Homo sapiens: one gene and its partner. The protein of the gene in region 1 interacts with the protein of each later gene in a pairwise test. Each region holds a gene or a part of one and is shown on either strand. Other genes may lie near its edges.

What was found.
Region 2: the proteins of BEND5 (region 1) and CTNNBIP1 interact in a two-hybrid assay, tested with the Homo sapiens proteins (one large-scale study listed by BioGRID and IntAct).

The regions. Positions count from the first base shown.
Region 1 is NC_000001.11:48,756,295-48,760,110, forward strand, and holds part of BEND5 (BEN domain-containing protein 5), read right to left. Parts: intron 3,073-3,816; exon of another isoform or gene 2,991-3,072; coding exon 2,606-2,990; intron 1-2,605. UniProt on the Homo sapiens protein: Acts as a transcriptional repressor.
Region 2 is NC_000001.11:9,864,992-9,868,807, forward strand, and holds part of CTNNBIP1 (beta-catenin-interacting protein 1), read right to left. Parts: intron 1-3,816. UniProt on the Homo sapiens protein: Prevents the interaction between CTNNB1 and TCF family members, and acts as a negative regulator of the Wnt signaling pathway.

The DNA of each region.
Region 1 (3,816 bases):
CCCCTCAAAATCTGGTGGGTAATCCCCTCTGCTGTCCCACAGTCCTCTATGGTTTTGTCCCTATGATGGCATTTATGTACTGTGCTGTCATTGATTGTTTCAGGATCTGTTCCCCTCATCAAACTTTAAACTCCTCAAGGGCAGAGGGCAAGGGCTGTATTGCAAATATACTGAATTCTTACACTAGGCTAGGTCCCTGGCATGTAGCAGGAGACCAGCAAGTATTCATGGAAGAAAATAAGGTCATAGGAAAGGAAGGAAGAAAGGAAAGAAGGACATGAGCTTCCCAAAGCCACAGAGTTGGGAAGTAGGGAAGTTGGGATTTGAATCCAAGCCGTGAAAACATACAACCTCCTCTTAAGGGTAGAGATCCTTTTATTTTATTCTTGCGGATTTGTCTTGGAAGTTGGCACATTAGCATCCTCCTATTAACATGTGTTAATCAATAGACTTTTAAGCTTTCACTGATGAGAGACAGTGGGTGTGATTTTCCAGGATGCCTGTAGCCCTGAGAGGATAGGGTGGGTGGTCTATGCATACTTGGGGCTCCAGTTGATTTATGTTGAGTCCAACCCATTGTAATGATGATGGTGACTCAGATCAGGGAAGAGCTAGCCACTGGCCTGTGCAATGGCCTTCAAGGCCTGTGGGATGGGAGAGCCTAGAAAGATCAAGACACTGAAACTATGCTTCAGGTCAAGTTTTTCTACATGTTTTAGGACTAAAAGAGGCATATAATGATGTAAAATGCAGGGTGTCTTACCACCCCAGAGGCTTAGGAGTGGTTTCTAGAGTTTAAACTCAGTTCATAATCATGAAAAACAGGTAGTTTCCCTGGGAGTTGAATTAAGTACCAAGAATTTCTGTTTTTGGTGTACTTCCCCACAAGCCCCCAAGAAGTTCATAAAAGGCATAGCATACAAAGCACACTGAAAATGCAAATTATTCACTTTAAGATTGGGAAACATTTTTTCTCTCTGAAAATTTCAGTTATCCCCATCCCCCATCACCACTACAAGAACAATACAGCTTTTACAAATTTTTACATTTATGATTTCTCTTTGAGATTTTATTTTAATAAAGAACTTTACTAACTTTTGAAGTTGCAAACCATATGCGACTTTTCGTGTCACTGTGAACCTCTGTAGACTATGATTTGGGACAATGGCCAAGGCAATGGTAGAGTTGGGGAGTGGACAAAGTCCAGCCTATGAATTGAGTGACTAGAGTTGAGACAGAACTCTACCTCTGCCTCCCTAAGTAACTCTGGGGAAGTCCCAATGTCATTTCCTTTTCTATGACAAGGGCATGAAAGGCCTCTCTGCTGACTTCTTGGACCACCCAAAGATCTACTGAGCCACTACCTTGGGGATATACTTTAAGAAGCAAATGACACCTACAAATATAAGTAAATTAGGGTAAGAATAAATCAAAGAAGAATGAAGCTTCATATCTAAATATATTATCTAGATAATGAAAACCTTCACAAGGGCAAAATTGTATTTTATTTAAACTTTGGGGATATTTCTAGACTAGATTACCACCTTCTTCAAGCAAAGCACACTGACTCAGAGTTATTAATTACTGTCTTCAGGGGCTATGGAGGCAAAGAACTTGTGTTATACCGATTTCCTCAATATTGACTGGGCTCTATCTTTTACAGTTCTGGATTCTTATATTCTAAAAGCATTTTTCTGTCTTTTTCTCTCTGGTAAGCAGTCATTTCTTCCGGCAGTCAAAGCTGCTGCCTTTCAGGTTTCTCGATCCCTGCTTCTAAACCACTTTAGATCAGAAAACCTGATTAGTTAAAATAGGGTGCAATATAAGAACCTATTAAGTTCTATGAGCAAACCAAAGGAGTTTTATACGTCTTTATATTCATCTTCCTAAGGTCATGTGCCTCCCTGCTCAAAGCTTTCTAATGCTTTCCATTCCTACCAAAACAAGTCCAGACATCCCAGGCTGGTAAAGTTTTCAAGTCCTTCCATCTTCTGTCCTCAAAGCACATTTGCATTATTCCTCTTAGTGTGCTCCAGGTATTTGCCCATGCTCACCAGTGCTGCTCAGCCTCCTCTTGTGCCTTGAAACACTGCCCAACCTTCAAAGCTCAGTTTCTTACTGAAGTCTCTCCATGCCCTCAGTTACAAATAACCTCTCCAACCCCTGAATTCTCATATCATTTTGTCAGCATTCTCCTTTGGCATTTATCACTTTCTGACTTAAACTAATACATGTTGTTAGGATCATGTCTACTTCTTTTTACTATCCTGAAACCTCCTTGGAGAGGTTCCCTACGATCCCTGTTACTGCCTCCTGCTGAATGAATGCATAAGGGACTGAGCAGTGACAAATATTTTGTCAGCTCTTAGTCTCTGACCCATGTTCGCCAATGTTCCCATAGCTGAGGCTGCTGCATACATAAGCTCCTACCAGATTCACTATGAGTGGGGAGTGACTCTTCCTTGAGGTAACTGGTAAGCCAAGAGTCTGTCCTTCCCTAGCCTCAGGGCACTTGGTCTCCCTCTCCCCTTTCCCTTCCTGGAAGAGGATCTGCATGAAGTATTTCACCCAAGTGGAGTGGTAGGTGACCTGCTGGGGCACTCACCGCTGCCAAGCCGCAGGAGCAGCACGTCCTGGAGCCTCCGGTTAAGGTCACGGAGCTCCTTCATTTCAGACACAAGTGCCCCGTACTCCTTGAGCTTCTTGGCCTGTTGTACCAGCTGCCTCCGAGTCCGCTCCAGCTCCTGCTGGAGGTGGCGCATCTCTTCCTGTTGCTGCTGGTAGTTGCGCAGCAGCTCCTCATACAGAGCCCGGGGCACCACAGCATCTTCTAGACTGTCCATGTCCTCTGTGCCTGGCGAGGCCTCCACGAAGACCTCTTCCGGACACGTGCTATGGCCCAGGCTCAGGCCGTTCTGCTTCTCTAGCCGAGCCACCACTGCCTCGATGCTCTTGTGCGCCACTTCGCTCGGCTTCCGCCCCTCAGGTCTCTGTGTAGGACAACGAGAATCAGTTCAGGCAAGGGCAGCTGGGATTTTCTTGGACTGCAGATCAATATTTCCCCAGACAATCCTAAAATCACAGAATCACAGAACATCAGTGCTTGGAGAAACCTGTGCAAACACTTAGTCAAAGCCCTTCATTTTATAAATGGGGAAACATTTTATAAATTTTATAAATGGGGTTCCGAGTGGGGAAGGGGCTTGCCCAAAGTCATAACCAGGACACTGGTTTCCCAGGCCTGCACTTTTTCCTTTTCACCACTCTGCCTCCTGGATGCATATACCATGACCACCCTTCCCAACTCCCCAGGCCCCAGCCCACCCACAATGCCTAGGCAGTGGCTTGCTCATGGGGGTGTTCAATATGTATTTGTGGAGAATCAGGGAGAAATGAGGCCAGGCCAAGTGATCCCAGAGGACTCACAAATGTCTTCAACAACAAAAACATAAAATTCCTCCCCTAAAGGCAATTCACCATGTAAACTTTTCATCGACAATGCTTTAGATGGAAAGGATGTTAAAAACTCTAATCTACTCTAATCTAGAGCAGAAAACATGTCTTATTTTCTCTGTTTCTCCTCTGCCTACTCACTCAGAACTGGCACTCAGTAGGGGCTTGAAAAATGTTTACTCAACTGAAAAGTTCAAAGAATTCTAGCATTGAAAGGTACTTTCAGTTTAACTGCCTCATGTTACAGGTGAGAAAACTGAGGGTCAGAGAGTTCAGGGAAGGACTACACTTAGGGTCACATAGTGAGATACAAACAGAGCCAAAACCAGAATTTGGAATCTAACTTCCAGTACAAGGCTCCTT
Region 2 (3,816 bases), about 39 Mb from region 1:
GCCAAGGTGGGCAGATCACGTGAGGTCAGGAGTTTGAGACAAATCTGGCCAACATGGTGAAACCCCATCCCTACTAAATATACAAAAATTAGCTGGGCATGGTGACATGCACCTGTAATCCCAGCTACCTGGGAGGCTAAGGCAAGAGAATTGCTTGAACCTGTGAGGTGGAGGTTGCAGTGAGCCAAGATAGCACCACTGCACTCCAGCCTGGGCAACAGAGTGAGACTCTGTCTCAAAAAAAAAAAAAAAAGTTTTATTGGAAATTATTTAAGAACACAGTGAAATTATCATGCGTAAAAAATGGATGTTAAAAATGGGTATTAAGGCCGGGCGCGGTGGCTCACGCCTGTAATCCCAGCACTTTGGGGGGCCGAAGCAGGTGGATCACGAGGTCAGGAGATTGAGACCATCCTGGCTAACACGGTGAAACCCCGTCTCTACTAAAAAAATATATAAAAAATTAGCCAGGCGTGGTGGCGGGCGCCTGTAGTCCCAGCTACTCAGGAAGCTGAGGCAGGAGAATGGCATGAACCCGGGAGGTGGAGTTTGCAGTGAGCCGAGACCGCACCATTGCACTCCAGCCTGGGTGACAGAGCGAGACTCTGTCTCAAAAAACAAAACAAAACAAAAAAACAACAAGAAAAAAAAACAGGTATTAAAATGTTTATGGTCCCAGCCTTGTGCTACAGATGTATGCATGTTTGTGAAAGGATGACAGGGAACTTAACAAAGGGTAAGAGTGATTACAGCTATGCAGTAGGATTCAATATTTCAAACTTTTCTGCTCTTTCTCCCTTTCCCCAGTTTTTTAAAATGACTATGCACAATTCTATAACTGGGAAAAAAATCACTACGCATTAGAGGGAGCCACACTGACCATGAGAGAAGCCTGGACTCAGCACTCCACAGGCCTGCTTCAGGAAGCTCTGGACCTCCCCATTCCTGCAGCTGCCCCTTCCCAGCAGGGCGACCTTCCTGAGAAGTACTGACTTCCTCTGGTTCAAAGCCAAGTCTCTCTGGTTTCCAGGTCTGCTTAGACACCCTTGGGGACTAGAACCCAGTTCATTTATTTGTCCAAACATGACAAACAATAAGATGGAAGCCACAGTTCCAAGCTCAAGGAGCTCAGAGCCCGGTCAATAGATGGATTAGGAGACAGTGTGGGTGTAGCACAGCTGAGGTACATGCACATGTGACAGGAGGGCCTGGCCCAGGTTGCAGGGGGCAGGGGAGTAAGGTGGGGGTGAAGGCTGGTTCCTGGCGGCCAAGAGGCAAATGCAGTGGCAGAAAGGCATGAACATGGCCATTCACTATGGCCCTTTACAGTGTGAGGTCAGGTCTTGCTCACCAAGCTAAAGGGGCTGGATTTTATCCTCAAGGCAGTGGGGAGCCACTGAATGATTTTAAGTTGGGTGGAGGCTGGGCATGGTGGCTCCCGCCTGTAATCCCAGCACTTTGGGAGGCCAAGGTGTATGGATCACCTGAAGTCAGGAGTTTGAGACCAGCCCGGGCAACATGGTGAAACCCCGTCTCTAATCAGCTGGGTGTGGTGGCGGGAGCCTGTAACCCCAGCTACTCGGGAGGCTGAGGCAGGAGAATTGCTTGAACTGGGAAGGTGGGGGCTGCAGTGAGCCGAGATCACGCCACTGCACTCCAGCCTGGGTGACAGAACAAAACTCCTTCTCAAAAAAAAAAAAAAAAGTCGAGTAGAGACCCACTAATGTCACTCTAAGCCTCCAAAAGTCTCTCCAGCTGTGGGGGTAGAGAGCAGACCTGAGGGGGCAAGATGGGAAGTCGAGATGCCAGATAGGAGTGATCTGAAGCTGTGAGACAAGAGTGAATATGGGCTCAGTCCAAGAGGGGGCTGGAAATGAGAGGGAGAGAATGAAGCAGGTCTGGGGAGCCTTAGGATGGACTCAGTAACCCATTAGGTTCCTGAGGAAGAGAGGAGTCGAGGCTGAGTCCTCGGGCGCCGTGTACTTGCTGGGCATTGGTCAGGGCAGAGCACAGGTGGAAAATCCATGTCAGCTGGGCATGGGTGGCTGTGGTGATGCTGGCCAACAGTCAGCTGGCTATGTTCTCTGTTGAGATCACAGCACTGCGTGTGGAACAGGGAGAAGAGAGGGGGCAACCCTGGAGGATGACAGCCCTGATTGAGGGAAGGGAGTGGGAAACAGCCAGTGAGGGGTGACGTGAAGGACAAGGGAGGGAAAGGAGGCTGTCATTGGTGGTCTCAGCCCAGCAGAGGCCAGGCAGGCTGGGAACTGGGGGGCCACTGGGGCCTCTGCTGGAACCACCTGGTGAGCCCGTAAGGGGAGGCCCCCACCCCAGGGTCTCCAGCACCTGCCTGGCTCCCCATAGATACTCAACAAATGTGACCGAGGAAGGAATCGAAGGGTAGGGGGTAAAGGGGTGCCCACGGCCCCCTCCCTGGGCCTCAAGTAAGGGAGCAGTGCCCCAGGTACCAGACCCATCCAGCCCTGGAGGGGAAGCATGTGCAGGGCTAAAGGTGGCGGCCAGACCCTCAGGACCAAGGTCGGGTGCTGTCCGTTGGAGGGTCTGCCTCAGACCCCCTGCTAGAGGAGTCCCGGGGTAGATGGAGCCTCCTCTGGCTCAGGGAACACCTAAAGCAGCCTGGAGCATTTGCTGAGAGACAGCGCCACCTAGTGGGCAGGAGGTGCACGCCAGGCCATTACCCACAGGCTCCAGGCCTTTGGGGTTCATTATGGCAGTCTCTGCACCCTGCTCTGGCCCCCGCATCCTGCCCCAGTCCCTGGAGACAACAATCCAGGGCTTCTTCCACCTAAGCAGTGTCTGAGCCTCTGACAGCAGGATCCTGCAGCATCAGCTGAGATTGGCTCTGCGATGGAGAAGGTGGGCAGGTGAGATTTTAACAGAGATCCATTTGCCCACATGGCACAGGCAGATGCAGGGTCCTGCCCTCACATGGGTAAGCCCAGTATGGGACTGGGCTGATTGCAGTTCTGCTGTTATTGTTGTTGTGTTTGTTTGTGGTGTCGTTAGGCTCGCAAAGAAAATAAATATGCTTATGAAACTCTTCCAGACATGGCTGACCCCTCCCCTCTCCACTCCCAGTCCACAGAATTCTCAGAACCTCCTGCAGCTCAGGTCTGTGTGGCTCAGGCCCCGGCAGCCAGGTTAGAGGTATCTTTATGGAGGTAGGGGCAGTCCACAGGGCGCCCCAGCAGCAGGGAGTGACTCCCACCACCTATTCCGCAACGATTCCCTGGGGTCTTCCCTGGCTCCAGCTTCAGCTCCAGAAGACCCCTCCCCGGAGAAAGAAGTAGCTGTGGACAGACACCACCCACCCAGAAGGGCCTGGACTCCACGGCCCACACAGTTGGTCACAGCTGCCAGCTTGCTCCTACTGCTCAGCAGTTTCAGGGCAAGGTCAACAGCTAAGTGGGGTCACTGACCTTCCTCAACAACTTGGCAGAGCTCATTTTTATTCTTAACTGTGGGTTCGGCTAGGCAAGAGTTCTCCTAAAAATATTTTTTTTAACTTTCCCTTATGACAAAGAAACAAATGTACAATGTTAAAATATTAGTTTTACAAAAATGTGTGACTTGGAAAGTTAAAGTTTCTTATATAGTCCTATCCCCTAACAATTATTATTATTATTATTTTTTGAGACAGAGTCTAGCTCTGTTGCCCAGGCTGGAGTAAAGTGGTGTGATCTTGGCTCATCGCAAGCTCCGCCTCCCAGATTCAAGCGGTTCTCCTGCCTTAATCTCCCAAGTAGCTGGGTAGCTGGGACTACTGGCACCTGCCACCATGCTCAGCTAATTTTT